Regions from separate parts of the Homo sapiens genome. Here region 2 is linked to region 1. A link means that fine-mapping ties the variant in region 1 to the plasma level of a protein whose gene starts in the linked region. Region 1 holds a variant in brackets. A gene starts in the other region. All regions are shown on their forward strands.

Region 1 (15,944 bases):
ACTCTCCTGCCTCAGCCTCCCGAGGTACTTTATTTTTTTGTGTGGCTATTGTGAATGGGATTGCCTTCCTGATTTGGCCCTCAGCTTGACTGTTTTTGGTGTGTAGGAATGCTAGTGATATTTGCACATTGATTTTGTATCCTGAGACTTTGCTGATGTTATCAGCTTAAGGGCTGAGACTATGGGGTTTTCTAGATACAGGATCATGTAGTCTGCAAAGCGGGATAGTTTGACTTCCTCTCTTTGGATGCACTTTCTTTCTTTCTCTTGCCTGATTGCCCTGGCCAGGACTTCCAATACTGTGTTGAATAGGAGTGGAAAGAGCAGGCATCCTTGTGTTGTGCTGCTTTTCCAGAAGAATGTGTCCAGCTTTTGCCTATTCATTATGATGTTGGCTGTGGGTTTGTCATAGATGGCTCTTGTTATTTTGAGGTATGTTCTTTCAATACCTACTTTGAGAGTTTTTAACATGAAGGAGTGTTGAATTTTATTGAAGGCCTTTTCTGCATCTATTGATATAATCATATGGTTTTTGTCTTTAGTTCTGTTTATGTGATGAATCACATCATTAATTTGTGTTTGTTGAACCAACCTTACATCCCAAGGATAAAGCCTGCTTGATCATGGTGGATAAGCTTTTTGATGTGCGGCTGGATTTGGTTTGCTAGTAGTTTGTGGAGGACTTTTGCATTGATGTTCAGCAAAGATATTGGCCTGAAATTTTCTCTTTCTGTTGTATCTCTGCCAGGTTTTGGCATCAGGATGATGTTGGCCTCATAGAATAAGTTAGGGAGGATTCCCTCCTTTTCATTTTTTTTGGAATAATTTCAGTAGGGATGATACTAGTTCTTCTTTGTACATCTGGTAGAATTCAGCTGTAAATCTGTCTGGTCCTGGGGTTTCTGTTGTTGTTGTTGTTGTTGTTTTGGTTGGTAGGCTTTTTATTACTGATTACATTTCAGAACTCAATATTGGTCTGTTCCTGGATTCAGTTTCTTCCTAGTTAAGTCTTAGGAGGTTGTATGTATCCAGGAATTTATCCATTTCTTCCAGATTTTCTACTTTATGAGCATAGAGGTGTTCATAATATTCTCTGATGGTTGTTTGTATTTCTGTAGGATCAGTGGTAATATCCTCCTTGTCACTTCTGATTGTGTTTATTTGAATCCTCTCTCTTTTTATCTTTATTAGTCTAGCTAATGGTCTGTTTTATTAATGTTTTCAGAAAACCAGCTCCTGGATTCGTTGATCTTTGAAATTTTTTGTGTGTCTAAATCTCCTTCAGTTCAGCCCTGATTTGGTTATTTCATGTCTTTTGCATGCTTTAGGATTTGTTTGCTCCTGGTTCTCTATTTCTTCTAGTTGTGATATTAGGTTTTTAACTTAAGATCTTTCTAACTTTTTGATGTGGGAATTTAGTGCTATAAATTTCCTTCTTAACATTGCCTTAGCTGTGTCCCAGAGATTCTGGTATGTTGTCTCTTTATTCTGATTAGTTTCAAAGAACTTCTTGATTTTTGCCTTAATTTCATTATTTACTCAAAAGTCATTCAGGAGCAGGTTATTCAATTTCCATGTAACTGTATGGTTTTGAGTGAATTTCTTTGTCTTGATTTCTAATTTGATTTTGCTGTGGTTCAAGAGATTTTTTGTTATAATTTCAGTTCTTTGGCATTTGCTGATGAGTGTTTTACTTCCAATTATGTGATCAATTTTAGAGTATATGCCATGTGGGAATGAGAAGAATGTATATTCTGCTATTTTGGGGTGGAGAGTTCTGTAGATGTCTATCAGGTTCATTTGATTCAGTGCTGAGTTCAGGTCCTAAATATCTTTGTTAATTTTCTGCCTCAACAATCTAATATTGTCAGTGGTGTGTTAAAGTCTCCCGCTATTAATGTGTAGGAGTCTACGTCTCTTTGAAGGGATCTAAGAACTTGCTTTATGAATCTGGGTGCTCCTGTGTTGGGTGCATAGTTAGGTCTTCTTATTGAACTGAATACTGTTTTGCCATTATGTAATGCCCTTCTTTGTCTTTTTTTTTTTTATCTTTGTTGGTTTAAAGCCTATTTTGTCAGAAGCTAGGATTGCAACCCTTGCTTTTTTCTGTTTTCCATTTGCTTGGTGAATTTTCTCCATCCCTTTATTTTGAGCCTATATATGTCATTGCATGTGAGATGGGTCTCTTGAAGACAGCATACCAATAAGTCTTGATTCTTTATCCAGCTTACCATTCTGTGTCTTTTAATTGGGGCATTTAGGCCATTTACATTCAAGGTTAGTAATGACGTGTGTGGATTTGATCCTGTCATCATGAAGCTGGCTGGTCATTTTGCAGACTTGTTTATGTGGTTGCTTTATAATGTCCCTAATCTGTGTACTTCAGTGTGTTTTTGTAGTGGTCAGTAATGATCTTTCCTTTCCACATTTAGTGCTTCCTTCAGGGGCTCTTGTAAAGCAGATCAGGTGGTAACAAATTTGGCATTTGCTTGTCTGAAAAGGATCTTATTTATCCTTTGCTTATGATGCTTAGTTTGGCTGGATATGAAATTCTGGGTGGAAAATTCTTTTAAGAATGTTGAACATTGGCCCTCAATGTCTTCTGGCTTGTAGGATTTCCACTAAGAAGTCCACCATAAGTCTGAGGGGCTTCCCTTTGTAGGCAATCTGCCCTTTCTCTCTAGCCACCTTTGACATTTTTCTTTCATTTCAGCCTTGGAGAATATGATGATTATGTGTCTTGGGGATGATCTTGTGAAGTATCTTACTGGGGTTCCCTTTATTTCCTGTATTTGAATGTTGGCCTCTCTCACTAGGTTGTGGAAGTTCTCATGGATAATATCCTGAAATATGTTTTCCCAGTTGGTTCCATTCTCCTCATCTCTTTAAGGGACACCAATGAGTTGTAGATTTGGTCTCTTTACATAATCCCATATTTCTCAGAGGTTTTGCTCATTCCTTTTCATTCTTTTTTCTCTATTCTTGTCTGACTAGCCAGTCTTCAATCTCTGAGAGTGTTTCCTCTGCTTGGTCTATTCTACTATTAATACCCATGATTGCATTATGAAATTCTTGTAGTGTGTTTTTCAGCTCTATCAGATCGGCTACAGTCTTTTCTATACTGGCTATTTTGTCTGTCAGCTCTTGCATTGTTTTATCATTATTTTCAGCTTCCTTGGATTGGGTTTCAATGTACTCTGGTAGCTGAATGGTCTTCATTCCTATCCATATTCTGAATGTCATTTAAGCCATCTCAGCCCAGTTCAGAACCCTTACTGGAGATGTGAGCCCATCCTTTGGAGGAAATAAGGCACTTTGGCTTTTTGAGTTGTCAGGGTTCTTGTGCTGATTTTTTTCTTATCTTTGTGGTCTTGTGTTCCTTCAATCTTTGAGGTTGCTGACCTTTGGATGGTTTTTCTTTTATCCTATTATATTTGATGAACTTGAGCATTTGTGGTGTAAGGTGGACTCAGCCAACTGGCTGTGTTTCTGGAAGATTTTTATGGGGCCAGCACTCAGCTCCCAAGTCCTACACTTCAAGCTGTAATTCTGGGGGAACTTATATTAGGCCCTGACTTTGTTTTCTGGCTCCTCAAGGTTAGGAATTCACTGTGTTGGGGGAACTGAGGTGCTCCCGGACCACTGTTCACTACACTTTGATGGGTGGTATCAGCCAAAGTGTTTCATATTGCAGCAACAGGGGGATCTGTCTTCGTTCACATGTGCCAGCAGCAGTGGTAGTAACAGCTGCAGCAGAGTGCTAGCAGGTGCCATGCTAGCAGGCGCCATGCTAGCAGGCATTCACCACAGTGGCAGAGGAAATGCAGCTGCAGGGGTGGGGAGTGGAAGGAGTGGCCCCAGATGGTGACTGTGTGCACAGTCATGCTGGAGGTGGTGTTGACTCAGGGGTGGGTCACTGATGGGCACAGGTCTGGGTGCCTTTTCTGTGCCCTGCAAGCAGGAGTGATTGCTCAGGGCAGGGAAGGATCTGCTGTTCTCTGTGTAGTGTTAGTGCAAGGGTGGGGTGCTGGCAGGGACTGGGCTGGCTGGCTCTGTGCCCACCAAGGCTCTGTCTACAATGGCAGTCAGCAGGGGGAGTGGAGTAGACAGCACTCCCACATGCTGGTGGGGCAGTGAAAGCAGAATCTGCCCATACAGACGTGCTAGCAAAGTGATGTGGGGAGTTGGTGTGAGCCCAGGGGAAGCTGCATTATGAGGAGAGAGCATGCAGGCTGGCACATGGCTGTAGTGGCCACCCCACTGGAGCTCCCTGCTGGTTAAGCATGGTCCACCAGCACAGAAGGTATGGTGTGGGCCCCCAGGGAACCCGAGACCACCCTGCAAGCAGGAATGGCCAGGCTGGGGCCCCAGGAGAGGCCAGCAAATCAAGGGGTGCTCAAGTCAGACCTGCCCAGTCTGATGGACAAGACCACTCTGCAGAGTTCAGATCTGACAGTTCCCCTAGGGTTAACATCTCCTATGTGAGCAAGTCAAGCCTAGAGGGGACAGCCTTCCCTAGTTGTGCTCTGCTACAGATGCTCCCACATCAAACCCTCTGGGTTCTGCATCAGATGGCTTGCTGCCCCTACCCCTTCTCTAATTAGCTCTCTCTGCCACCTTGAGTGTCCATGGTGGTCAAGGGGTTCCCTTCTGCCAGGGTTCCAGAGGCCGCGTGAGAGTAGGTTGCTCCTTGCCAGTTCAACTCACCCATTCCCTTGGAGCCAGTGGAAGCCAGGAATGAGTCCTGGTGTGCAGTAGCCCCATGCAGGGTTCCCAGCTTTCTCCCCTTTTAACCCAGTTTCTTTTTCCACACTTTAACATCTCTGAAATGACTATCCATGATATAATCAATGGCATCTTACAACTGCTACCAGCAGAACAGCAGTCATGGTATACTAGTCATCCAGGAGGTGTGAACTTGGCTGTTAGTCTTGCCGACATTATTGGACAACTGCAACCTCTTGACGTTTCAATCAGTAAACTCTTTAAGAGCCATTTGAGGAAGGAAAATAAGCCTTATTTGTTCCCTGAAAATATTCTGTTGATATCTTCTGGTAAAGTCAAGAAAGTGCCAGCATCAAAACTTGCAGAATGAGTACTGGAGGCTTAGGGGAAAAAATCTCAGAAGCATACTGTTATTAGTAGTAGAACATTCTACTAAGATATGTTGTCATCATCAAAATTATTCAAGAATTTTGAATAGTAATTAAGATTACTATTATAAATGGGAAAATAATTAGAATAGTGAAACTAGTTTATTTCACTCATAATTTACTTTGTATATATACCTATGAGTGATATATGATAAAACTACATTTTTAAAATCAAAAGGTCTTTCAATATGTATACAATAAAAATCCTAAGAATTAGAAAGCTTTGTGTCAGAGTTTAATTGAAAGTTATTTTCTTTCTTTTTCTTACTTTCTTTCTTAGTGTTAACTAATGGCTTATTTTACAATCAATACTTTTAGAGCAGATGAAATAAATCCTTGTAAAAATACAGCACATATCTAAAAAGTGCAAATTTTTTGTTTTCATATGTGAAATACTCATGTGCCACATAATGATGTTTCATCAAATGATGGATCACATATCCAACAGTAAAATTATGATGGAGCTGAAAATTTCCTATGGCTTAGTGTCATCACAGCCTGAGTAATGCTGTAGCCCTCATAAGGTCATAGTATAACTCATTACTCATGTATTGGTGGTAATGCTGGTATAAACAAACCTACTACACTGCTAATCATATAAAAGTATAGCACATACAATTAGGTACAGTACATAATACTTGATAAAACATAAATGACTATGTTACTGGCTTATGTATTTACTATACTATATGTGATTGTAGAGGATACTCTTTCTACTTATTAAAAAGAAAACTTAACTGTAAAATAGCCTCAGGCAGATCCTTCAGGTGGTATTCCAGAAGAAGGCATTTTTATCACAGAAGATGACAACTCAGTATGTGTTACTGCCTCTGAAGACCTTCTATTGGGACAAGATGTTGAGGTAGAAGACAGTGATATTGATAATCGGGAGCATGGCTATGCCTAGGCTAATGTGTGTGTTTGTGTCTTCATTTTTAACAAAAAAGTTTAAAAAGTTGAAAAAAAAGAAAAAATATTAGAAAAAAGCTTATAAATTAAAGATATAAATATTTTTGTACAGCTGTACAATATTTGTGTTCTAAGCTAAGTGTCATTATAAAAGACTCAAAAAGTTTTAAAAAGTTAAAACATAAAGTAAAAAAGTTACAGTAAGCTAAGGTTAATTTATTATTGGAGAAAGAAAAATTTTTTTATAAACTTAGTGTCCCAAAGTGTACAATGTTTATAAAATGTACAATAGCATATTAGTCCATTTTCACACTGCTATAAAGAACTGCCTGAGACTGGGTAATTTATAAAGAAAAGAGGTTTAATTGACTGACAGTTCCGTATGCCTGAGGAGCCCTCAGGAAACTTACAATCATGACAGAAGGTGAAGGGGAAGCAAGGCACATCTAACCATGACAAAGCTTGAGAGAGAGAGAGAGAGAGCAAGCCACATACTTTTAAACCCCCAGATCTCATGAGAGCTCACTATAAAAAGAACAGTAAGGAGGAAGTCTGCCCCCATGATTCAGTCACCTCCCACCAGGCCCCTCTGACATGTAAGGATTACAATTTGAGATGAGATTTGGGTGGGGACACAGAGCCAAACCGTATCAAGTAGTGTACAGTAATGTCCTAGACCTTCACATGCGCTTACCACTCACTCACTGACTCACCCAGATCAACTTCCAGTCCTACAGGCTCCATTAATGGTAAGTGTCCTATACAGGTATACCATTTTAAAATATTTTATGCCATCTTTTTACAGTAGTTTTTCTATGTAGATATGTTAGTTACACAACATATGTTAGATATGTTTAGTTACACAAATACTTGCCATTGTGTTCCTATTGCTTATAGAATTCAGTACAGTAATATGCTGCACAGGCTTGTAGCCTAGGAGCAATAGACTATACCATAGAGCCTACATGTGTAGTAGGCTATAGCATTTAGGTTTGTGTAAGTATATTGTATGATGTTTGCACAATGATGAAATTGCCTAATGACACATTTCTCAGAATGTCTCATTGTTAAGTGAAACATGACTGAACTGCTATGTTCTAGACTTAAAAAATAATGAATTTTTCATCTACATGAATGTTTTGAGCTGGAAAATTATTTTATATAGGGCACTATCCCTCACATTCACGATGTCTAGCATCCCTAATGCCCTTAATGAATACCAGCTGCAGCCCTATTCATCGTAATAACCAAAATTACTACTGAAAATTTCCCAAATATCCCCTAGAGGGAGGTATGCATATACATTGAGAATCAAGTTTTCTAAATGCCTGTAGCTGTGATATTCCCATTCCTGGTCACTAGAGGGAGGAAGTAGTCTTTAGGATGATAGTACGATTCTGTTTTGTCTGCCCTCAAAGTTCAAGTTTAAGCTGATATAGATCAGCTTGGCAAAAATAGATCATATTTCAGTAAAATAACTGTGGCATAGTTTCTCACATATGTTTGGTACTCTTTATTATTACAATGGAATCACATTTCTATTTTATTTAGGCTATCACTGTTACAAAAGTAATATTTTCTCAGGCTAATTATCTAGTTATGATCACTGCCTGTGATAATACTT[T/TA]AAAAAAAAAAAGAAAAAAAAAAACCTCATATGCTCCTGCTTTCACCAGTCTTAAGAGAAACCAGAGACAAAGGCTCTGACCTGAATGACCCCACACCTTTGTATGCTGGTTAAAGATGCACCCTTTGAAATCAAACAGATCTGACGTCAAGTCCCAGTTCTGTTACTTACTAGCTGTTTAATTTAGGCAAGTCACTTCAGCTCTCTAAGCCACAATTTACTCATATACAAAATGAATATAATAAAACAACTTACAGAATTATCATGAAGGTGAAATGAGATATCTGTGAAGTGTTTTTCACAATATGCTTTCAATAAATAGAAGCTGACTTGCTCATTTTTATTATTTTTATGCTAAGAATTACATTAAATAAACAATATTGTAGGCAGTATAAAATCAATGTCAAATTCTATTATGAAACTGTAATTGTATAAAAGTTGAGAAACAAAAGTCATCCATGTAAAATAAGTGAAAGGTTTGTGGAAGAAAAGAAGAGTTGAATTGGACCAAGTAGATTGGATACCATTTGAATAATCTGAGGAAGTCATGAAACACTAGCACATAGTAATAATGCTTGTCCACTATGTTACAGTTAATTCCTAATGATTCTAGACATATGGTATTTTGGGCTGATAGGGAAAACAACCCTTTTTGCTCTAACTAAAGTGCTTTACCACATTCTTCCACATATCACTTTAAAGACTTTATAAAATATATTAAGAAAAAACTAGATGCATGAAATACATACTTTTAATAGCTGACTTTAAGCAGACTTGGTTGCTCAAAGTCACATTTTCTGTGAGGAACATACAGTCTGTATTTCAAACCAAGTTTGACCTGAAAATCTTTGCTTATAATAGACTAACACATTCAGTTCATCAATATTGGATCAAGACTGGAACACAGCCACTCTCTGAAATCACATTCCAATTAAACATCTACCATGCTAAGAATGTAAGATATAAAGATGAAGAAGACACAGTCTTCTGCTCTGATAGAGTTATACTTTAGTAAAGAAGAGCTAAATACAAATAAATAGAGAGTAAAAAATTTCTGGGAAAAGAAAACAATTCTGGAAAAACAAGGTACTGAAATATGATTACACCTTGTAAACATTCTATTTCTGGGAGCTGCAAGGCCAAAAATAAGCAAGCCCCACTCTTGCCTAATATACTCAGTGCTCAATGCTCACCTTGAAATTACATTTCCCTCATTGTTGATGAAATTGCAGAGGAGTTATCAAAACTGACCCAAGAGAAGTTTGGCCATTAAGCAAAATGGTTAACAACAAGAGCATGTTGTACCATGCACCTGTTTTTAAAGCCATCTGAACACAACTCTTAATTGTATTGTCCAAGGTTAAGTTGGAGTTTGGTGAAGAGGATGATAATTAAGTACTACATGCCTCTTATAAGTAATCGCTCTATTGACTAAACCTCAATAAATATACATTATTTATTTACTAGTGATATCAATAGTTCTTTACATCTCAGCAGCCAAACTCCAGAAGAATATTAAAATATTTGAACTGCTTTGGTCCATTCTATTTCTCTGGAAAGTACAACTAAGCAATTTAATTCAGGCAGTAGATATAAAAAATTACATTTTTAAAGACAGGATACAGTTATCTGATAGGATTTGGAGACCTTCTATTGTTTAACATAAACATATCCCTTTTAAAAGCTACTTGTGAATGAATTAGGAATAACTTTCAACTAAGATCAAGCTATTCAAACTTAATTAGGATTTTAGATATATTTTTATGGCAAATTTAGTTACAAGCTGCTTCAATATGGTGCAAAGTGTCTTAGCTGGAAATGAGAAACCCTAATTGAATGCAGCCCATGTTACCTTCGTCTTGGATAATACACTTCTCTTTCCTGAGCCCCTATTTCCCTATCCATTAAATGGAGATAGTGACACTGCAACTACAAAATGAGAGCATATATGGAAGTTACTGATATATCTAATAATTTGTTGAGATTGTGAAGACAGAGATATGTACTTGATGCAGAATTAGATATCCAAAGCCCAAATTGTGACCCCACAGGGTAGGGAACTTATTTGTGATTAATAATATAGGTAAATGTCTTGTTTTGCTTTATTTTGTTTTTATAATGGTAACAATTAAGGAAACTGAATCAACTGGAGATGAAGCAGAAGCAGCAGCTGAGTTTAGGACAATGGTTCCCAAATGATTGATAGCAGGCATTAGAATCACTTGGCACATTGGTTAAAACCGGTTTCTAGGCCTCACCTTCAGAGTTCTGTTTCAGTAGCTCATGGGTGGGGTTCGAAAATCTGCATTTCTAACAAGATCCAGGTGGTGCAGATACTGCTGGTCTGGAGAACACTCTTTATGATCCACAGCTTTAGGGTAATGGAAAGGAGCAGTTGGAGCTGAAGAAGTCAGAGAAAAGCATCTTGTAAGCATCTAAATGGTCAGAAATGGAAAAGGAAGCTCAGAGAGATTCTTGAGAGGGCCCCAGGGAATGTCAATCCTATTTACAGGACAATATGTCCTAAGCAGACTTCACTTCAATGACCAGAGGATGACAGACCTCAGTTTGTAAACTAAGAGAATCTTGAGAAAGGTCAATTTTGGCCTGGAATTGAAAGAGAAATAAGTTTTTAAAAAGGAATTTCATTATTAGAATTATAAATAAAATCATGCAACAGTAAGAACTCACAAATAAGATCTTGTAAGTAGAGTCAGCAATTTTTACCACCAAGGAAGAGAAGCCAAAAGACTGGAGATGGGCAAATGAAGTTCTATTTTTTAAATTATCAATAATATTTTAAAATCTATTTATTGAGGTATAATTTACTTACACTAAAATGCATAAATCTTAAATATATACTTGGACAAGTTTTGAAAAGTGGATACACCTGTGTTATCACCCAACTCAAGATATGGAGCACTATTACCCCTGCAAATGTCCTCAAGCTTTACCGTTACTCCCCTCAACCTTGAGGCTACCATTCCTGGGATTTCTATCACCATAAAAAAGTTTTCTATGCTAGTGAATTTCATATACATGGAATCATATAATATATATTCCTTTGACATCTTTCACTTAACATGTCTCTGAGATTCATCCATGTTGATGATCAATAGGTTGTTCCTCTTTATTGTTGAGTGGTGTTCCATTGTATGAATATACCATAATTTGTTCATTCACTCACTTGTTGGTGAACATTTGGGCTGTTTCTAGTTTGGGGCTGTTATAAATAAAACTGCTATGACCATTCCTGTGCTACATGTAAATTATACTTTATTAAAGAAAACAACAAATACCAAGTATCTATTAAAACATCTTTGGACACTTTAAAAGAGCAAATAGTGATCAACAGAAGTAAAGCATATCACTAAGAAATCATTTCCTTTTTTGGCAAGGGAATTTCAAAGACAGACGACACCTGCTGTTATGAATTTTAAAGACCTCTTTTGTTGAATTCAGGTTAATTCCATTCTGCAAGACCACAGGGGGGAAACTATGAAATAGATATACTGAAACTCTACGATATACCAGGCTCTTTGCAATAGCTGGATGTTTATAAGGTGGCAAATTTGAATCAATTTGACAAAACTGGGAAGGGAGTATGTATTCCCTAACTTAAGGAGTTCAAGAAAAGGTAAGCCATGATTCTCAAACTCAGCTGCACTTTAGGCTGTAATTTAATTGGTTCAGGGTAGAGTCTTGGCATCAGTATTTTTTGAAAGCTCAAAGCTATATATAATGATCAGCCAGGTTTGAGAACCATGAAGCTAGATGACTATTTGTCTGAATGTAAATTAAATGAGAAATTAAAATTGAGAGGAAGACAAATGGAAATTTTAATTGATTGCATATTATATGCTAGACATGATGCTTGCTGTCTAACCTCTATATTATAACTATATTAATACTTGAAATCTCTTAGCACAGTGTCAGGCGCAAAGTAAGCTCTCAAATGTTTCTGTTGTTATCTTCTCTGTAACCTTATAATGCAGTCTCCAAATGCATCCTAAAACATTAGCTTATACTGCAAGTTTTATCATCCCTACATTATGGATAAGGAAACCAAGATTCAGAGTAGTTTATTTTGGGAAATGCAATACATGGTAATTGTAAAACCGGGATTTAATCCTAATTTAAAGCTAGTATGCCTTCTCTGCCCATCAGGTCATATCTAAGACATATAGGTGTTCACAAAAATTAGTAACTTACTTAAATGACCCTTTCCTTTTTAATTGAACCATTTCCTTTTACCTGTTCTCAAAGAAATTACCTTAAATACAAATCCTAAAAAAAGTGAAGCCAAAAAGTAGACATCCACATTTTTCCTAATGTGGCTTGATAGAAACTCTTCTATAGGTCTTGACAACCTCTGAGGTCAGAGAGAATGGATTAAGATGGCCCTTCAGAGCTCAAAGCACTTAACATGGAGAAAGTACTGCTTCCAAGTAAAACACCTCCCATAATAATAAATGCATAGAGAGCATACCTGTCACTTCTATATAGTCTAGGACTTTAATTATATAATAATGTTGAAGGAAAGGAAGTCAGTCCTGAGGGGGATGGTCAACTCCTCTCAGCCAGGCTGGTCCTCTCTGAGTTTGCTTGTGTGCAGTAGATGTTTTGAATGTGTGTATTTGCTGCAGAAAAAAAGGAAACATTCAAGGAACGGTACCCCCCTCAATGAGCCTGAGTTCCTCAAGGGCAAAGACAACCTTTACTATCCCATTCAATCCTTACTTATGCTAGTATTCAATAAACAACTACTGCAAGATTACAATTACAGACCACTAATTTTCAAAAAGTATGTTTTTTTGTTTTTTTTTTTTTTTGAGACGAAGTCTCTCTTGTCCCCAGGCTGGAGTGCCATGGCTCAATCTTGGCTCACTGCAGCCTCCACCTCTTGGGTTCAAGCGATTCTCCTGCCTCAGCCTCCCGAGTAGCTGGAATTACAGGCGCCTGCCACCACACCCAGCTAATTTTTGTAATTTTAGTAGAGACGGGGTTTCACCATGTTGGCCAGGCTGGTCTCGAACTCCTGACCTCAGGTGATCCAGCCGCCTCGGCCTCCCAAAGTGCTGGGATTTCAGGCGTGAGCCACCCTGCCCGGCTGCTTTTTCAAGTAGTACGCGTTCATTGAACTGACTTAATGCAGAGCTAGACTCAGATATTTTCCTTTTCTGTTGCTAGCCAACTGTTAAAATACGACTGAAAATATTTTCTGAACATCATGTACATTTGTAAACTAAAAATAGAGCATTTGGCCGGGCACAGTGGCTCACGCCTGTAATCCCAGCATTTTGGGAGGCCGAGGCAGGCACATCGCCTGAGGTCGGGAGTTTGAGACCAGCGTGACCAACATGGAGAAACCCCATCTCTCTACCAAAAACACAAAATTAGCCGGGCGTGGTGGCGCATGCCTATAATCCCAGCTACTGGGGAGGCTGAGGCAGGAGAATCGCTTGAACCCAGGAGGCAGAGGTTGCGGTGAGCGGAAGCTTGCCATGAGCCGAGATGGTGCCATTGCACTCCAGCCTGAGCAACAAGAGCAAAACTCTGTCTCAAAAAAAAAAAAAAGAGCATTTTACTTTAGAAAATATGCATATATTGGTCTTAAAAGTCACTAAAAATTAAACCAATATAACTGTGTCAATTTGGCATCAAAATCTACCCTGCCTATATCAAGAAAGTGTTGCACAGTACATTTTGCAAAATATTCAGTGCATCTTAAGTACTCAAGAACAGTTCATTAAAGAAATTTTACTCACCTTCTTTTTACCCATTGGCCTTGAATTTAAGCAAGATAACCCTTATCTTAGTCACAAGAAGCTTCAGGAGGAGAAAGTATTAACATGTTTAATTTTTACAGATATTTTATATGCTTTCAGATATTCCTCAGGAAGTCGAGACATGCTGTCCTATGTAATTTTAGATTTACTAGTAGCCACATTAAACAATGGCAAAATGAGGATAATTAATTTTTCAATATATTTTAACACAATGTCAAAAATATTTCAACATGCAATCAATATGAAAAAAATTGAGATATTTTAACATTTTTCTTTCCATACTGAGTCTTCAAAATCCAGTGTGAATTTTATATTTATAGATCTCAATTCAGACTAGCCACATTTCAAGTGCTCAATAGCCACTGGTGGCTAAAAGTTACTGTATTGGACAACACACATCTAGAGTCTAACCCCCTTCTATCTCCAGTATAATCACCTTAAAATGTACAAAGTATATAAAAGGTAACCCAAAATTAAGTAGTGCTCTGTTAAAATGCAAGTGAAAGATTTAATGTTGAAAGTGTTTAGACGTTTTCTAATGACTAAAAGGGGAAATAGTTATTTAGGAATGGCATTGCAAATCTTTTTGACATTTTCCCATTTGCTCATTAAATCTTTCTGAGAACTAGGTTATTTTGTTCTTTTTCCTCCATCTGAGTTTTGTCATTCAATATTTATCTGCTGACAACTATGCAAAACATTATGCTAGATGGGCTGGGTGCGGTGGCTCACGCCTGTAATCCCAGCACTTTGGGAGGCTGAGGTGGGCTGATCACGAGGTCAGGAGATGGAGACCATCCTGGCTAACATGGTGAAACCCCATCTCTACTAAAAATACAAAAAATTAGCCGGGCGTGGTAGCACGTGCCTGTAGTCCCAGCTACTCGGGAGGCTGATGCTGGAGAACTGCTTGAAACCGGGAGGCGGAAGTTGCAGTGAGCCGAGATCGCGCCACTTGCGCTCCAGCCTGGGCAAGAGTGGGACTCTATCTCAAAAAAAAAAAAAAAAAATGCTAGATGCAATGAACCATGTAAAATGCACTGCATCTCCACTTTCACAAAGTTTCCAAACTACTGAGAGGAAAAGAGTGAACATGGGAAAAACATGAAAATATAATCTCTGTATTTTATTTTACTGTATCACTCTGTTAATTCTTTGTTTGCTTATCAGTCCTTCCCCAGTTCCCCAAAGAAGGGAATGGACTTTATCTTCTTACTCTTTTTCTCTATTTGTGGAATTCACTGTAATGAATAATTATGTTAATTTTCTAGAACAGAGGTCCCTCCAAAGTACACTAAGTGCATAAAGAAACATTTATCTCCTCTATGGGGAACAGAAAGACTTTGGCAGAGGAATTACCAAGGGCAGGCCTTGAAGGATTTGACAGAAGAGAACAGTGAGGAAGTTTAAAGAAAAAAAGGAAGTTTTTACAGATGAGAAAGTATGAAAATAGAGGAGTACATCACATATGATAGGTACTCCCTGCATACAAGTTAATAAAAAGAAGAGCCTGAATAACCTGAGAATATAATTTATGGAGACAGAAATGGAGGATTTGAGCAACTGAAGGGGAGGTTGTGCTGCATAAACTACATGGAAAAAAGTGATTGAGTAAGCAGTTGCAACTGCTAACGTTTTAAGGCAAACTACCTTGGAAGGTACCAAACATACCGTGCCCTGCTTTCTTCTCTTTGGGATAATGTCTATTGTGTCCATTTAAGGACTTTAATGATTCTGTAATTTTTAGTTAACATCAATTTAAGGACTTTAATGATTTTAATCCATTAAGAACTTTAATGATTTTAATCCATTAAGAACTTTAATGGATTAAAGGACTTTAATGATTCCATAATTTTTAATTAATATGAACAACTTCATTCAAGCATTACATTTATGGGTAAGGTGAAAAATAAGAAATCTAGCAGAACAACATGCTTTTATTTTACCATCATGCATAAAAAGGAAGACAAATATGCCAATGGTACACTTCCAATTTGTCAGAGCAATTTCACAGTATTTAAGCAATTTAGGAAAAAAGATATATCACTTACTAAGTTGTTACCAGGGAAAATTATCATGTAAGACAATCAATTAAACCATACTTTTGTAGATTATTTTTCCATGAAGGCAATTTGACAAGCCTAACAAAGACCAAGTTGTTCAAACTATGTTTCTAGGAATATAGTTTAACAGAAACAAGAACAAGTTGAAAACTGTTATGACTATTCATATGTCTCTATATTGTACAGGCAAGTAAGACTGTTGTTCTTCCAAATGTTCCCAATTGAAATCAAAAGAATATCTGTACAGCTCAATTTTCACAATAAGTTTAGAATCAGAAAAAAAAATTTTACTAAATCCTAATGAAATAACAATCTTCCACATAAATTAGGTCACAAAACAAGTAAGAAAGCATTCAAAGTTGCGCTGTCTTTCTTTAAAGAACCCTTGTCTAGGCAACATATTTAA
Region 2 (15,944 bases), not on the chromosome of region 1:
GTATATATACAATAAAATATTATTCAGTCTTATAAAAGGATATACTGCCATTTGCAACAACAAGTATGAATCTGGAGGGTACTATACTAAGTGAAATAAGCCAGATACAGATAGAAAAATACTGCACAATCTCACTTATGTGTGGAATGAAAAAAAAACAGTTGAATATATAGAAACAGTAGAGTAGTGGTTACCAGGGATAGGGAAGGGGAGAAAAATGAGACAATGTTGATTAAAAGGTACCAACTTGCAGTTATGTTAAGATAAATAAGTCTGGAGATCTAATGTCAGCAGGAAGACTACAGTTATTAATACTACATGTTGACAATTTGCTCAAGAGTAGATTTTAGGTGCTCTTGCCAAAAAGTAAAGATAGAAAAGAGCAACTAGCAACTATAGAACATGATGGACATGTTAAAATTGCTTACCTGTAGTAGTAATTTCCCTATAAATATGTATATCAAAATACCATTTTGTACACCTTAAATTTACACAATTAAAAAAGTTCAACGTTTGTAATAATCTTGGAAATACCAAATAAAACAATGATAAAATAAAATACCATTTTATTAAAATGAAGTGATTTATTAATATTTTTCTGTTTATACCTAATGTATTGGCCATTTTCATATATTTTTAGTTGGGGATAGATTGATATAATTTGTAATGCACTTTCTCAGTATAAACTAAGGACATTAAAACGTGTATATCTCTTTACTAAGTTATTTCCACCTTAAGAGATCAGAAATGGAGTTATTAATCACTTGGTGGTAAAATTCTGCATTGCTTTTATTTTTAACCTTATGTATTTTATTTTCTATACAGTATACAATTAGCTTAATAATATATTTTGAAATGAAAAAAATAACATTAATTTTACATGAAAAAACTTAGATCTCCTAAGAATAAAACTTCAAGGAAAATAATTAAATACTGCAATAGTACAACTAGGAAGTTGCTCCAGGTTTAGGCAAGCCCATAGGATAAATGATTAAACCTGCTTCAGGTTGGGCAAGGAATACCTCATCAACAAGGAGAAGATTCAACTTGCCAAATAGTTGCAAGGAGGGAATGATATTTTTTTCAAAGAAAGAAACTTATGGTAAGGCTTAAAAAAAGTGTTCCTTAAAGTGCGATGTAACATCGATGTAAAGTGCGATGTAAATTCCTTAAAGTGCGATGATGATTAGGATGTACATCCTAATCATCTGGAGTTGTTGTTTAAAATGTGCATCTTTGAGTGCCAACTCAAACCCACTACGTAAAAACCCCTGGGCACAGGGCATAAAAGCCTGCTGTGTACCTGGTTCTACAGATGGTTCTCATGCACAAAATTTCAGAACCACATTGTAGAAAAGTAAAGCAGTATGACATGCTTTGGAAACTGCAGATAATTTAGTGCAACTGTATTACAGGTTACAGATAATAAGAGATGAATCTGGAAAAGAAAAGAATGTTATGGTACATGCATAAGAATTCTTAAATGACACACAAGGGGCTTGGACAGTATGTGAAGATTCCACAGGAAACCACTGAAGAGTTTTAAGCAAAGGGGTAACCTGATCATATTTTTTTTTCCAGGATTACCCTGGCATCAGTGTGGATGACTGTATATGAGGCAGACATAGATTGGAAGAAAAACTCTGGAGTGTTTTAATTTTTCTGGTATAAGAAGAGGATTAGGAAAGGCTTACTTAGGTACACTTGGTGAATAATTGATTATGTGGATGAAGGGAGAAGAAATAATTTTGGATGATTCTGATACCCATGTTTGCCTGCTTCCATATGTAAGTTTATAACAATATATAGGGGCAAAAGATATTTTAAAGCTACAACTCTGTACTTTTCTACTTTTCCTTATTTTTAATCACAGGACCTAAATTTTACTGGAAACATGAAGCTTATAAAGATAAGTTCCTGCCACTGCAGTAAGTCCATCAGGTCATAAGAAGGCTGATGAAGGATCAAGAGACATCCTTCTCACATTGATTATTTTAGGTCAACTCCTTGGGGACACCCTAGAGATTTATCTCTAGATGCAACAGAGCTAAAATGTCTACAGACATTATTACAATATATGGACAGACATTCCATAGGATATTCTCTGATTGGATAAGATTGTTGGCTAAAAGTCTAACACGACTGTTGGGGGAGACAGCATGCACACTTGGGGGTGCTGTGATCCAGGCAATTTGGAGGCCTCCATTGCAGTTTCTATGGTTAAATATTGTGACAATGTGTGTGCACAGGGGACACATGAGTGATAGTCCAGGGTAATTTTAAAAATACTGTCTTATTAAAAGCCATCCCATTTCTATTTTGACTTTTTGTGTCACAGAATGAGACATTCCTTTTAACCACAGCTGTGATTTGCCTTCACATTGATTGTGGTAAGGAGGAATTTTCCCTTGACTGCAGAATGTCTTGTGACCACTTTATATATTTCTTAATTAAACTAACATGGCAGAGGTAATAGGGCATTAGAATAATTTTATCCAAAATATCTACTTCCTACCCATGCTGATCAAAGAGGTGCAAATGTAGGCTGAGTTGGATCCATGATCCCCTAAGAGCTTTGGCTACATGGGAGACGAAGGGAGCAAATACCAAATCCAGCTTCCCTTTGGGGTTACTAGGAGCCCCCAGAATCCTCAAAGGCTCTGAATCACTCACTCTTCACCTCCATAACACACACAAGATCCTTCTCCTATAATTATTCCCACCAAAAACAGTCATAAATTCAGGCCTTAACCAACCGTTTAATGGCATGCTGCTTTTTGTCATTGCTATCTATTATTTTTTCTTAAAGCACTGCCTCCTCTCTGCCATTTTTAAAAATTTTTATTGACTTGTATGGAGAAACCAAGGTATTTGTCCTGTAGAGTGCCCAACATTATGGATTTACTTTCCTTGGTTTCTTTTAACTTGTTCCCATATCCCCAGTATTTCTCTATAATCTGGCAATATGATAGTGATATCTACAGTCTTGACTATCTTTGGGTTTACTGTGTTTTATTTCTCCAAAAATACTTGATGGGGAGGGTGCACTTATTATTGTATCATATCAGGAAGCAAATAATGTCTATGACTAAACTATTATGGATGTCAAAATGATCTGTGAGTTCAGAGACATTAGCCTGATTTCCCATGAGACTGTCCCCAAAAACTTTTCATACAATTGTTTCAGCACCCAATGGTGAGGGATGCCTATATTCATACTTTTGTTAGGAGTATTTTCTAACATTTTAATGCATGTATTAGGTGGAATTCTATGAATGACATCCATATACTATTTTCCCTGTGGTACAGTTTTTAAAAAATAAACAAAAAAAGGATAAATGCTTTATTCTTTCTGTTAATTCATCGTTTTCAAATGAATGAGATAATGCCCTAGAAACCTCCAAAAGGTACCAAGGAGGTGAGTGTGTGTATATAATCATAAACTCAGATTTCTATATATTTATATACATTGTGGTCATTATTTGTTTTGATGGCCATATTGTCTCATTTTAGGTTAGTGGGAGCTCCTTAATATTGCTCCCGTTTTTGTGACATGATTCATTAGTCTTTGATAGCTTCCTTGATTTCTGGAGTAAGATGGCCCAAGTTTATTTTACATATTTCCTGCCCCAGACCTGGATTCAGCTATTCTCCTAAGAGCACTGGTTCTTAGGAACCAGTGAGTAATAGTATGGAGAGACCACAGTCTTGATGTTCATTGTAACTACTGCTACTGAGTTGTCATTACTTCAAGGACTTTTCAATGGAAAAGTGGGAAATACAGATTTTTTGATAGAGAAAATCAGTTATTAATTTATATGAATATTTCTAATTCCAATTTAAGTCAAAGATTTTTACTTAATTTCTTTCATTGTATACTTGTATCTCATTTTCTCTTAACACTGAAAATCCTGACTTCTAAAGAAATGTAACTACTTGTTTTCTTACAACATAGTATTCTAGATACAATAGGTTCAAAATAACACCAGTATTACCATTAACAATGAGACTACTAAATGCATTTTCACAGTGCACTAAAATCTCAGAATTCACTGCAATATAATTCATCCATGTAATAAAAAACCACTTGTAACTCCAAAACTATTCAAATAAAAAGTAATAACAAATTTAAAAATGCATTTTGAGATTTCTTCAGAATTTTTTCACCTTTATATTCCCCAAAAGACATTCTCATATTAATTTGTGAAGTCATTGAAAATAAGTATATATCTTTTGTGTAGTTTTGCCACTATTTGGTATTCAGTTGGGTTTGAATGCTTAAAGAAATGCTTTTTCTTTTTTATTTAATTTTGATTATTAATTATGTCAAATATTTACATGGTCCAAGATAAAAACTATATCACAGTTATATTTACACAAATATTATCTCCACAACTGTCCACCCCTCTGTTCTCTCCAAACCTCTATAGGTAAACATTTTTAATATCTTTAGTATCTTCTGTGATGTTTGTGTATATGTGTGTTTATTCATACTGTTCTAGGCCCTGTGTTTCTTATGTATCCTGGGAGTCAGAAGATATGCATATATAGATATTTTGCTAACTCCTCATCCATAAAATCTTCAACCAGTCCCTGACTGAAGAGTACCTGGTTTGCTTCTAGCTTTCAGCATCATTCAAAGTTCTCAGGCATATACCTATTTGTCAAAATAACTGGGATAAATTTTTAAATGAAAGATTGTTCAAGCAAAAGGTAAACGCATTTGTCATTTTGCATATTTAATTTGTAATTAAATATGTTAATCTTGCTATGAAAACATAAGAATTTAGAAAAATTGTTTTATTACAGAGAAAGAAAAAACCTATTTCATTGGTATGACCATATTTAATCAATGATAATTTACTGGTGAAATTTAAATTATTAAATTTATGCATGGTTTCTCATGCATGGTTTATATAAATAAACACCTTAAACAGTATAAACATTTGAAAAACTTTACTTTCCTTGGTTTTTTATAAGTTTAGTGGTCTCCAACCCACAATGTCTTAGGAAATAATTTAACAATAGGAAAACCCTTAAAACCATCTATCTCTATGTAAACACAAACATATACATGTGAGTGGGGATTGGTAGATAAATAGATAGAAATTGCTTTCCCAGAGGAGAACATTTCTGGCTTTAATAAATTGATTAGCTTTTTAAATCAGTCAAGAAAGTTAAGATCTTTTAAATAAATCCCCTTATTCATTCATTGTACTGCAATCTAACACAATAAAATGGGAGTAATATTTTTAAAGTGTTGTTAATCTGCGACTTTGTCTTCTTGGGACTAAAATATAATCCAACTTTTAAATGCAAAATGAGTTTTATTTGCTAGTCCTTTTTATTCTCAAATATGTTAAAAGCACATGATTATATTGTCTTATGTTGTTTCAGTTATGATCCTCTTCTGAAATCAGGAATACGACCCCAAGAAATGAGTGAGTCATATTTGCTTTTATATCTTATGCATTGCAAGAATTCAGTCTCACAAACAGTTGAACCATAAATTAAAAATGGTAGACTCACATTTGAATAGCAGCTAGTTATATATAAAAAAATCCAAATTTTTTAAAAAGTGACTTGTATTAATAAAAACTGGTGAATAAATCACCAATGATTTGTTTCCTCATGCTGTCATATTATTCTTCAGATACAACCATAAAGGCAAATAAGCCATAAAGACAAACAAGATGACATATTAAGAATGTTTAAAATTGCTTCTTCCGAATTTTCCGGATTCTACTGGCAAAGCGAAGCTTTGGCATCTTCTTTTTCTTTTTCAAAGCTAAAATCAATAAAACGACAATGAAAATCATACATCTCCAGTCTGTAGGCTCACTATAAATCACTATTTCTGATAAGGTTATTGAGCTCACTTCATCTTATTTTTAAGGACTGTGAAGTCAAAACTCATTATACACTCAGTTAATAATATTTTACCTTTAAGATATGAAGATACAGCTACCGTCTACTGCAGCTAGCCAGTAAAAGCATTTTGACAAAACTGATTAACACTACGGAGATACTTATGTAGAAGTAGTCTAGAAACAGCAATTTGCTATTAGTAAAATGGATAAATAAAAATATAATTTTTCTGATAAGTTATTTATAAAGTTTATCTAAAGGTGGAATAAGAAAACATTCACTACCTTTTGCACATGCACGTTTGCAATCCTCCCTGCTAACAAAGTTATTGTCATTCCCTCCACAGCCAGTATAGGTGAAAGCATCACAGGTTCTGTATCTTGGATTAAAATAATAGCGAGTCACATTGGCAGAGCACAGTCCCTCATCTTTTGGACTGTAGCAAAATGATGGAACTTTATAAAAAAGAGAAGAAAATTAGAAATGTTATAATACCAGAATTTTTAAATTATGGTGATTACTGAAGTAACTGAAGAAAATCTAATCCCATAGAAGCCTCAGTCTGAATCCAAAATATCATACTAAACCTTTAAAAAGATGTGCTTCAAATTGCAGGTAAGCTTACATGCTATATTTTGGTAATTCTAAATTTTTGTAAACTGGATAGAATTTCTTCTGAAGCTACATCTTTGTATCCTTTAAATGTAAAAAGAAGTTAAACCCAAATACCAGATATGGTTAGGTAAAAATGGGGTAAGTTTCAAGGACAATATGTGGCATGATTTGGTAAATTTTGTCGTGTTGGTAGTTTTGCTTTAATGTTTTTAACAGCTCTCATTCCATTATTAATCAATAATATATGCATACTAATTTCCAGGTAACCACTGGAGCAAACATTTATATGTACACAAACAAGAGAACATCCACAGTAACCATCACCACATTAACTCAAGATTTTGCATATTCAACACAGTACAGCTATAAAGCTTTATCAAATTCTCTGCCAAAGCAAGTTTTCCTTGTTTGTTGAACTTTTCAAAAATCTCTGTGTCTGGGGGAAATGCCTGTATTGTCTCCCTCTGCAAACATTAAATACTACTCAAGAGACTATCATTTCAAGGATTCAGGGGTGGTGGTGGGAGAGGTAACAAATGGATAGGACAGAAACGTGTGGAGATGTTTGTGCTGCAATTTGCAATTACTGAAGAATACAGAAATCTAACCGAAAACTTTAGAAAGAAATTTTCAAGTTTCACCATCTTAATTCTGTATATATTCCACTATCTCACATGTATAACTTATTGTGTACAAATCTGAGGTCATAACATTCATTAATGAATACTTTAATCTTTTATGCATAAATTGAGTAGCTGAGAAATAGTTCTAAAGAAACAATTCAGGGCTGGGCGTGGTGGCTTACACCTGTAATCCCAGCATTTTGGGAGGCCGAGGTGGGCAGATCATGAGGTCAGGAGATCAAGACCATCCTGGCTTACACGGTGACACCCCGTCGAAAGAAAAAAGAAAGAAAGAAAGAAAAGAAAGAAAGAAGGAAGGAAGGAAGGAAAGAAGGAAGGAAGGAAGGAAGGAAGGAAGGAAGGAAGGAAGGAAAGAGAAAGAAAGAAAGAAAGAGAAAAAGAAAGGAGAGAAAGGAAGGAAGGAGAGAAAGAAAGAGAAAGAGAAAGAAGAAAAAAAAAAAAATTAGCTGGGCATGGTGGCGGGCGCCTGTAGTCCCAGCTACTCAGGAGGCTGAGGCAGGAGAATCGCTTGAACCCGGGAGGCAGAGGTTGCAGAGAGCCGAGATTGTGCCACTGCACTCCAGCCTGGGCAACAGGGCGAGAGTCCGTCTCAAAAACAACAAATCAGAAGAGGCAGAAAGCAAAAATTTGAATCATGGCTTTGTCACTTTCCAGTCCTAAGAACTTGACAAGTCACTAACTTGTCAAGTAATGTGAAATCATGAAAATGCACATGTTAATTTCGCATCAAATTGAGTTTTTTCCACCCAAATGTCTTTTCAAAAAAGTGAAATAGAAATACCATAAAAATCGTATTTACTTTTCTTTGGTGCGCAGAAGCCCATACAAGTAGCTTCATCTGGAAACCTGTTCTCAATCCGGTTCCGGTGACACCCACCGGAAAAGAATTTTTCACATGTCATGGAACTTAGATTAAAGAAATACTTTTCTGTGGACCCCTCACACTGGTCGTCCACACTCACTTGCAGCCGGCAAACTTTGGGAACTTCTAGGAAAAGGAGGGTAATAGAACAATGTTAGTCAAAAGTAGCCTTCTTATTAAACCATCACTGTATTTTCAGCAACATTTTGTGGGGGGAGAGAAGTTGTATTAGTGTTGGGATAGTAAATACCCAGAATACTCCCATGAATCCAGATATTTACTTTTTTTTTTTCTAACAGTGTATTCAGAGCTGACTCAGCTGTGATGTATCTTTCAAGTTCAGTAGAAAGACTCTCTGTTTTCTCTGGGTGTTCTCTGATTGTACATATGCAGTGAATCAAAGCTTATTCACATGAATACGCATTTTCCCCTGGCTCAGTTCCTTGAATGGAAAAGCCCCATGTTCTCTTACAGGCCTTAACCGATATAATTTAAAAATTAAAAATAAATTAAAATATAACAGTATTATGAATCTCCACCATGTCCCGCAACTAATCCAACACATGTTTGGGTATCGGGACAAAAGTAGAGTTATATAATGAGCTAAGTCACACTTCAATAATAAAATCCACTAAAAATATTTCAGATTGATGGATAATCGACAGAAGGAAATGATGTACTCCAGGAGAGATAAAAATCATAGGTTTGGAATTAATGAAAAATACAGAGAAGCACTTACGTTGTACCTAACACGTTATTCTCTTGCATTTATTATACCCCATGGTGAGGGAACAAATCTTTCCCTGAGTCCGCACAGGCACTGAATTATGATCAATGTCAGTTGGGAGACAGGAAATGTGTTAGTGGTTGTAAATTTGTGATTACTTTTAAGAAACTGAAAACCATGAGGTTTGCTTAACACTTGAGAAAACCCAGGCTAAAACTTCCTGTAGAAAGCGAGACGTGGGAAACTGGCGAAGCTGCTACCAGCCGCCGGCGCAAGGAGCGCGAGAGTCCTGGGTGCGCGCAGGGCACTTACTTTCTATCCTCCAGCAAGCATCGTCGCAAGCCTCCCAGGTGTAGAAATTGTTGGCGTTGCCCTCGCAGCCCCCGTACAGGAACTGGCGGCAGCTCTGCGTGTACCTGTCGTAGTAGTAACGGAGAAGTAGGGCCCGGCAGGGTCCGTAGTCTAGGGGCAGGAGACAGATCTCCGCGTTATTTCCTGAAGAAGGGGCAGAAGGAGAGCAAAAGAGAGGGAAAGTGGTCAGGCGTAGCTCCTAGGAGGAAAGAACATCCCGGGGAGTTCTGTCCCCTTCCGAGCGGAGGGGCCTCTGCAGAGAAAGTGCAAACTTGGGAGCGAGTCCCCCCTGCCAGCGGAGCGCGCGGCAGGGACCTGGAGAAAGCGAGGCTTGGAGGGCGCCTACACGGGGCCCCATGGCCCGCTGCGCCCTCTCCGCCGGTTGGGGAGAGAAGCTCCTGGAGCGGCCAGATACCTGTTGGCTCCTGAGCAGCATCGCCCAGTGCAGCCTCCGTCAGGAAAAGCAGCAGAATCGACAGCCCCAGGGGGCGAGCGGGGTCCATGGTGCAGGGGGTCGGGCGGCCCGCTGGGCAAGGCGTCCGAGAAAGCGCCTGGCGGGAGGAGGTGCGCGGCTTTCTGCTCCAGGCGGCCCGGGTGCCCGCTTTATGCGGGGCGAGCGTCCGGCCGACCCCCGCCGGGGCGGAGCCTGAGGGGTGGCTGATTCATGCACGGGGACTGTCACCCCGCCGCCCCCGCGCTGCAAACTGTGTAAGAGGGAGAGGAATTCCCCGCCAAGTTGAAAAGTTGAACCTGCCTCCCAAACTTTCTCCTGTAGTCCAGACGGGGACGCCCTGAGGGAGCGTTTGTGTCAGTAATGGGAAATCTGCAAGCTAGACGGAAATGACCTGCTAGTGATTGCGCTGTAAAGAAGCCGGAATCCACCTCTTGAAGGCATGAAGTTCAGGTATTTGAAAGGCTGGTGGAGAGAAAGTGCGGAGTTCTTGGGTCAGAGCGGAGCGGGATTCGTTGCAATGGACCTTCAGATTAGATTAGAAATGTAAATAAGTGTATATTTATATTTATACACACAGATTTCAATCGAGTTCTAATTTACATTTAATACAGGCTTATAATATATCGTAGGTGGACAGTTTGATAAATTTTGACAACTGTGTAGCCACCAATAAAGAATTAGAACATTTTGGCTGGGCGCGGTAGCTCGCGCCTGTAATCCCAGCACTTTGGGAGGCCAAGGCGGGTGGATCACCTGAAATCAGGAGTTCGAGACTAGCCTGGCCAACATGGCGAAACCCCGTCTCTATTAAAAACACAAAAAATTAGCCGGGCGTGGTGGCGGGCACCTGTAGTCCCAGCCCCTCGGGAGGCTGAGGCAGGAGAATGGCTTGAACCCAGGAGGCGGAGGCTGCAGTGAGCCCAGATGGCGCCACTGCACTCCAGTCTGGGCGGCAGAGTGGAACTCCGTCTCGAAACGAAGAAAAAGAAGAAGAAGAAGAAAAAAAAAAGAGTTAGAACATTTCCATCACTCCAGAAAGCTCCTGCAGACTTTTTCCTAAATCAATCCTTCCATCCTTAGGCCAGGGGCAAACACTCTTCTCATTTCGATTACCATAGATTAGATTTGCCTATTCTTGAATTTCATATAAACGGAATTATAAAGTATTCACTGTGTAGTATTTCTTTCTCACACTTCCTGTTTTTGAGATACGCCCAGGTCACTGCATCAATAGTCTGTTTCTTTTAATTCCTGCGTAGTCCAAGGTATGAATTTACCAAAACGTATGAATATCCCACAATGTATAAATATGTTGCTGTGTGTATCAATAGTCTGTTCCTTTAAATCATTGAGTAATATTCTAATATATCACAAATGTCTTATTACTGGAATTTGTGTTGTTTCTAGTTTGTTTGGGGGCTCTTATGAAAAAAGCTGCTTTGTGTGGACCTGCAATTTTTATTACTCTTGGATAAAATACTTAGAAATGTTAGACACTGCCAAAGGATTTTTTCAAGATGATTGTACCATTTTACACCCCAACCAAGCATGTATGAAGCTATGTTTTTGTATGTATCTATGTTTTTGGAGAAGAACCATAGCAGCCCAGAGAGATAGCCTTGGGGAGTTCTGAAGATTTGACCAGATCAGTGTATTCCCACACATTTCCTAATGTCAGTGCATCCATTAAAGTTCCCTGTTCCTTTGACATATTAGCTTGTGATCCACTTTTTTTTTTAATACAAACAATTACCTACAGTGAAATTTTACATAAAATATTAAAGATATTTTTGAAGACATTTTAATATACTTGTCTTCCCTTCCCCTTTTCTCTTGTTGTATTCAACATTCTCAAGTAAATAATTATTCTTGACTTCTGAGGATACTGGGGGTAGTTTACAGAAGTTCTCTTTCAAGTTTTCAGGAAGCCCTGAAAAGTATAGGACACACTTGCTCAAAGTGGGTTAATAATCTGAGGTATTTTGCACATTATATCCTTGTGCCAGTTTTCAGTCATTCTGATGTCATGTTACAAGGTCACAGTCCTAGGAAAACCAGCCTGATCTGGAAATGCTGTCAGCTTTGATTAGCAGATGTCTATGATTAAGAATGATAGTTGAAACTATAAGGATAAATGTTTAATTATCACCTCTCCAGTAGGGAAAAATAAATGGGATGGGGATGCTTTGTATAGTTAACTGATTTCTGTGATGTAAATGTGCTCACTAAGGTCAATTTCAAGCTGCCACTGCAGAATCACTGAATGCCGAGGTGGGAAAAGATCTCCAAGAGCCAGAGCTCCCCATGGCCAAAATCTGTGTGAGCTGGCTCTAATGCACCAACCACTGAGACAGACAGCCAGTTTTGGAATGACACATTCAGAGTAAAGTCAGATTAGACCCTCCCAGTTCCTTCAAAATATTATTAGGGGAGGGAATTTTACCACTCATTTACCGAGAATCATATTCAGGAGAAAAGTTGACTCAACTTCAAACTTACCTATATCTATCTTCTGAATAAAATTAAATATATCTTTAGACTAAAATAAAATTCAAGGACTGATACTCAGTTTTCATGGAGCACTGACTACTGCCATTTCTCTTTGTTCTCAGGTGCTGGACACTTTTTGATTGTCTTTCGCTCATACAAAAAAAAAAATGAACCACTGGACACAATGGCTTCTGCTAGTAATCCCAACACTTTGGGAGGCTGAGACAGGAGGATCGCTTGAGGCCAGGAGTCAGAGACAAACCTGGGCAACATAGTGTGATTCCATCTTTACAAAAAAAAAAATTTTAACTTAGCTGGGCATGGTTGTGTACACCTGTAGTCCCAGCTATATGGGAGGTTGAGATGGAAGGATTGGTTAAGCCCAGGAGTTTGAATTTGCAGTGAACTATGGTCGTGCCACAGCACTCCAGCCTGGATGACAGAGTGAGACTCTGAATCTGACTAAAAAGAAAAAAAAAAAAAGATTAGCCCTTTTGTATCAAGACAGACATTTTGGGAAATTGCATCGTGCCATGGAAAAATAGAGTTGGAATTCAGAGGATACCTGGATTTTATTCCTTGCTACATTGGACAAGTTACTTAAAACTCTCTGAGCCTCAGTTTCCTTTTCTAATAGACATAATAACTCTACCTCGCAGATGTGTTATGAGGATTAAATGGAAAATGCCTATGCATTCAAAGATATTGTTTTAGCCCCTCACACAATGGCACAAACTTCATCCAGATCATCCCATATCCTACTTCCCATTGAGAGCCTTGGCACACAATTTTGAGATGGAGCATCAAACTCCCATCAGGAAACAGAGCAACATGAAATGGCCTTATAGAATTAAAGCCCATGTCCTTGCTCCTGTCAGCTCTTCTCTTAACTAAGCTCAGAGACCACCTCTCTGCCCATGAAGTTGTCACACTTTCTGGTAGTCTCTTCTAGGGAAATGAGCTTCAAGGGGATTTCAGAGCAGAATCCTCAGCCCACTCAGGGCTGCTGTATAAGGCATGTAGTGGAAATGGGAGGGGGGCAAAAACAGGCCTCTCACCCTTCTGTGGTGTGGTCTGTAGATGCAGGTTGGAATCAGTCCCGAGAGATGCTCTAGAAATGCTGGTTTCCTTCTACTTTTCTATGCCAAACAGGGTGCATCCTTAAAACCTCTATGACCACAGATGGAGAAAGGAGAATTAAAGAAGTGGAATTGGCAGAAGTTTGAGATTACTAACCCAGGTTATTACAAAAAAAGTATTCCTCTTAATTGCATAAATAATTGAGTATTTTTATATCCATGAAAAAGACATCTTCCAATATAAGGGTAATCTGAATTTCCTGGAGACTACTTTGACGTTACTGAATTTACATTTAGAATATTTTGGAAGGAGCAACATGACCACCACAATCAGCCTCCAAAGGGATGTCATAGCACTTCTATCTCCTTAATCCAGTGTCTAGCCCAAAATGCTGCCTCAAGGCTGAGGAAAGTAATTCCTTTGTCCAAAGTCAACAGGAAGTGCAAGGCTAGAGATAACTGGGAAAAACAGTCATCCAGATTGATTTGTCATTGCTACACCAATTGACAGTTAAATTGTCTGTGGCTAAAGACAAAGGCTCAAAATAGTCTGGAGTTCTGTAAAAATAAGGCATGGAGTTGTAATTTGAATGCTGAATGGAACTATAAGTATGTTCACTTTACACAAGTGTGAACTGAGATCTAGAAAGGTTAAGCATCTGGTCATGTTTACCTGCCATGGTTGTTGGCAGACCTGAGACTAGAATCCACAGTTCTGGATTCTTAGTCCTATATTCTTTCTATCACACCTAGACCTAAGTTCTTTCTACCATACCAAGACCTTAAAGCAGAATATGAAATACCAGAATTTAAAAATGCAAAAGCTGCAGTGAGTCCAGGAGCGCCTCTGCATGTGTCAGATTGCTGCCTCTGATCTTTCTCACCACCACACCCCTGGACCCCACAACAAATGAAGTTGATTTTGACCTGTTTAGCCCCTCCCATGCCTTGAGTATGATACTGTATCCTCTGAGAGCCCTGCCGTCTCGGTAGGTGAACCAAGAATTTAAGAAATGGACTGTGGCAGATGGTCTTCCTCTCTCTCAGACACCTTAGAGAGAGGTAGCATGTCTGGCTTATGAGTGAATGATGAGAATTAATTGAGCCCAGTGATTTGGGGATACATATTATGTAACATAGGTATTTAAGGAGTTACACTGATAACTCCTTAATAAACAAAGACAGTTTTTGCTGCCTCTTAGTTTAAGCCCTGCCAAAATAAAACTTGAAATGAGTCCAGCTGGCACTAATGAGTTTACACATCTGCTAAGAAAGATAGTTAATCTCTTCTGAGCAGTAAATGGTCATGAGGGTTTTGCTAAAGTTTAAGCAACTCCTTCACCAACTAGGTATTTTTCTAACCAGCTGGGCCATGTAAGAAACATTTATTCTAATGCACCCTCTGTCAGGCACAGAGTGCATTTGAGAGTGCTATATAATAAGATGAAGCCACATGAAAGGATGGGGTATCCTCTGTGCCTAATTTTATGAATCCCCTTCCCCCTAGAAAGAAAGAGATAATGAGGGTATATAACGTATCTCTTACTGTGTTCATTCCTTCATTAATCTACTTTAAAGGGAGCTGATTAAATGTTTGAAGTGTGACAAACTTTATGCTAGACATTTGGGATACAAATATGAGGGACCTCATAACATAATAGGGTAGATGAATGAACACTGTATAACCCAGTTACATTACAATGTTCTTAGTACAACATCAAAAATATGTACTAGGTTGTATAGGATTATAGAGGAGGAAGTAAATAAAAGGTAGGCAAAGCTCAATTCCAAATAAAATCCACTCTATGCAAACATACCTGACACTATATCTTCTAGGCCTATGCAATACAGAGACTCATTCCTTCATCTATTTGTTTTGGTTGGCTATTTTAGGTGCTGTGGTTGTAACAAAGTATTGCCTTCTGCTAGAGGAGCAGAATCTCAGAAACCACTTTTCTCTACTTCCTGGATGTACATTCCCTCAAGTGTCATTATGTCTACTTGCGATGCAGACCATCTTTTCTCTCACTCAGATTGCTACATCTTTAACTGTGTATGGCATCCAGAAGATTATGGCAAATTTTAGATGATTTTTATCCGAGACCTCCCAACTCAGTGCTGCCTCACCACCTAGCCAAAATTCTAGCCTTGGTTACTAAGCCTCTGGCACATCAAGAGTGGAGAAAGGAAGAGGAATGTTCCCCTAATCCCTGTATATCATGTGGAAATCTCCTTGGCAATCACAATACTAGTGGACATAACAGTGAAAGTTTGCATTATGCCTTGAATTTATTAGCTCATTAAATCCCGCACAATAACGACTTGAGGGAGATATGTTACTCTCCCTACTCTGCAATGAGAAAGCTGAAACTTTTGATAGATATATGACTTTCCCAAAGCTATTCAGTTAGCACAGGCAGTCTAAATCCTGATCCCCTGGTCTCACTGACTGTATACACAGTCTTTTTTTCCACATTAACAGAGGCCAAAGTCAAGCTTATTATATATACTTTCATGACCCTGGTTCAGTACCTGGACAACGCTGTATCAGTTTTCTTTTCTATGCAAACATAAAGTTCATAATTCATTCATAGGGCAAACAGATAGCTACAATTTAAATACATTGCCATAATGCTCTAAGAAGAACAGCTGCCAAAACTGATAATCAGATTAGAGGATTGAGAAATTTAATCACTAAAGTCCTCATTTTCACGGTTATATTTAGCAGAAAGTAATGGACCTTGACCTTTCAAATGTAAAGACACATTTTCTTTCAAATATATTGTCTTTTTATAAAGTGGCCAAAATCTCGTGTTAGTTATACATTGATTACTGCAGTGCCATATGCTCTCCA

Alleles and levels. Alleles are on the strand shown, and positions count from the first base shown. The strength of an association depends on the size of the effect and on how common the allele is.
For the plasma level of the protein whose gene starts at base 9,645 in region 2, TA is the low allele of the variant in region 1 and T is the other (weak association).

What was found. PIP is the posterior inclusion probability: the model's chance that the variant is causal. The UK Biobank Pharma Proteomics Project read protein levels with antibody pairs (Olink). The fine-mapping took linkage between variants from a reference panel, not from the people measured, so its PIPs are less certain.
Region 2: it holds the start of TFPI2, and the variant in region 1 is fine-mapped to the plasma level of the TFPI2 protein (UK Biobank, PIP above 0.99).

The regions. Positions count from the first base shown.
Region 1 is chr6:116,261,332-116,277,275 of GRCh38, forward strand. TSPYL1 (TSPY like 1) reads right to left here. Exons shown (of 1, transcript NM_003309.4): 1 at 13,527-15,944. It also overlaps a transcript of DSE not described here. Among named protein-coding and RNA genes, the nearest start is that of TSPYL1, 11 kb to the right of the region's middle. RefSeq lists an enhancer at 9,795-10,296. The variant T/TA (reference allele first, on the strand shown) is at 7,687.
Region 2 is chr7:93,881,109-93,897,052 of GRCh38, forward strand. It overlaps TFPI2 (tissue factor pathway inhibitor 2), which reads right to left and starts at 9,645. Exons shown (of 5, transcript NM_006528.4): 1 at 9,483-9,645; 2 at 9,029-9,211; 3 at 7,927-8,115; 4 at 6,153-6,323; 5 at 4,288-5,788. The coding sequence starts at 9,570. The coding sequence ends at 5,712. TFPI2-DT (TFPI2 divergent transcript) reads left to right here and starts at 9,786. Exons shown (of 2, transcript NR_134235.1): 1 at 9,786-9,971; 2 at 12,134-12,480.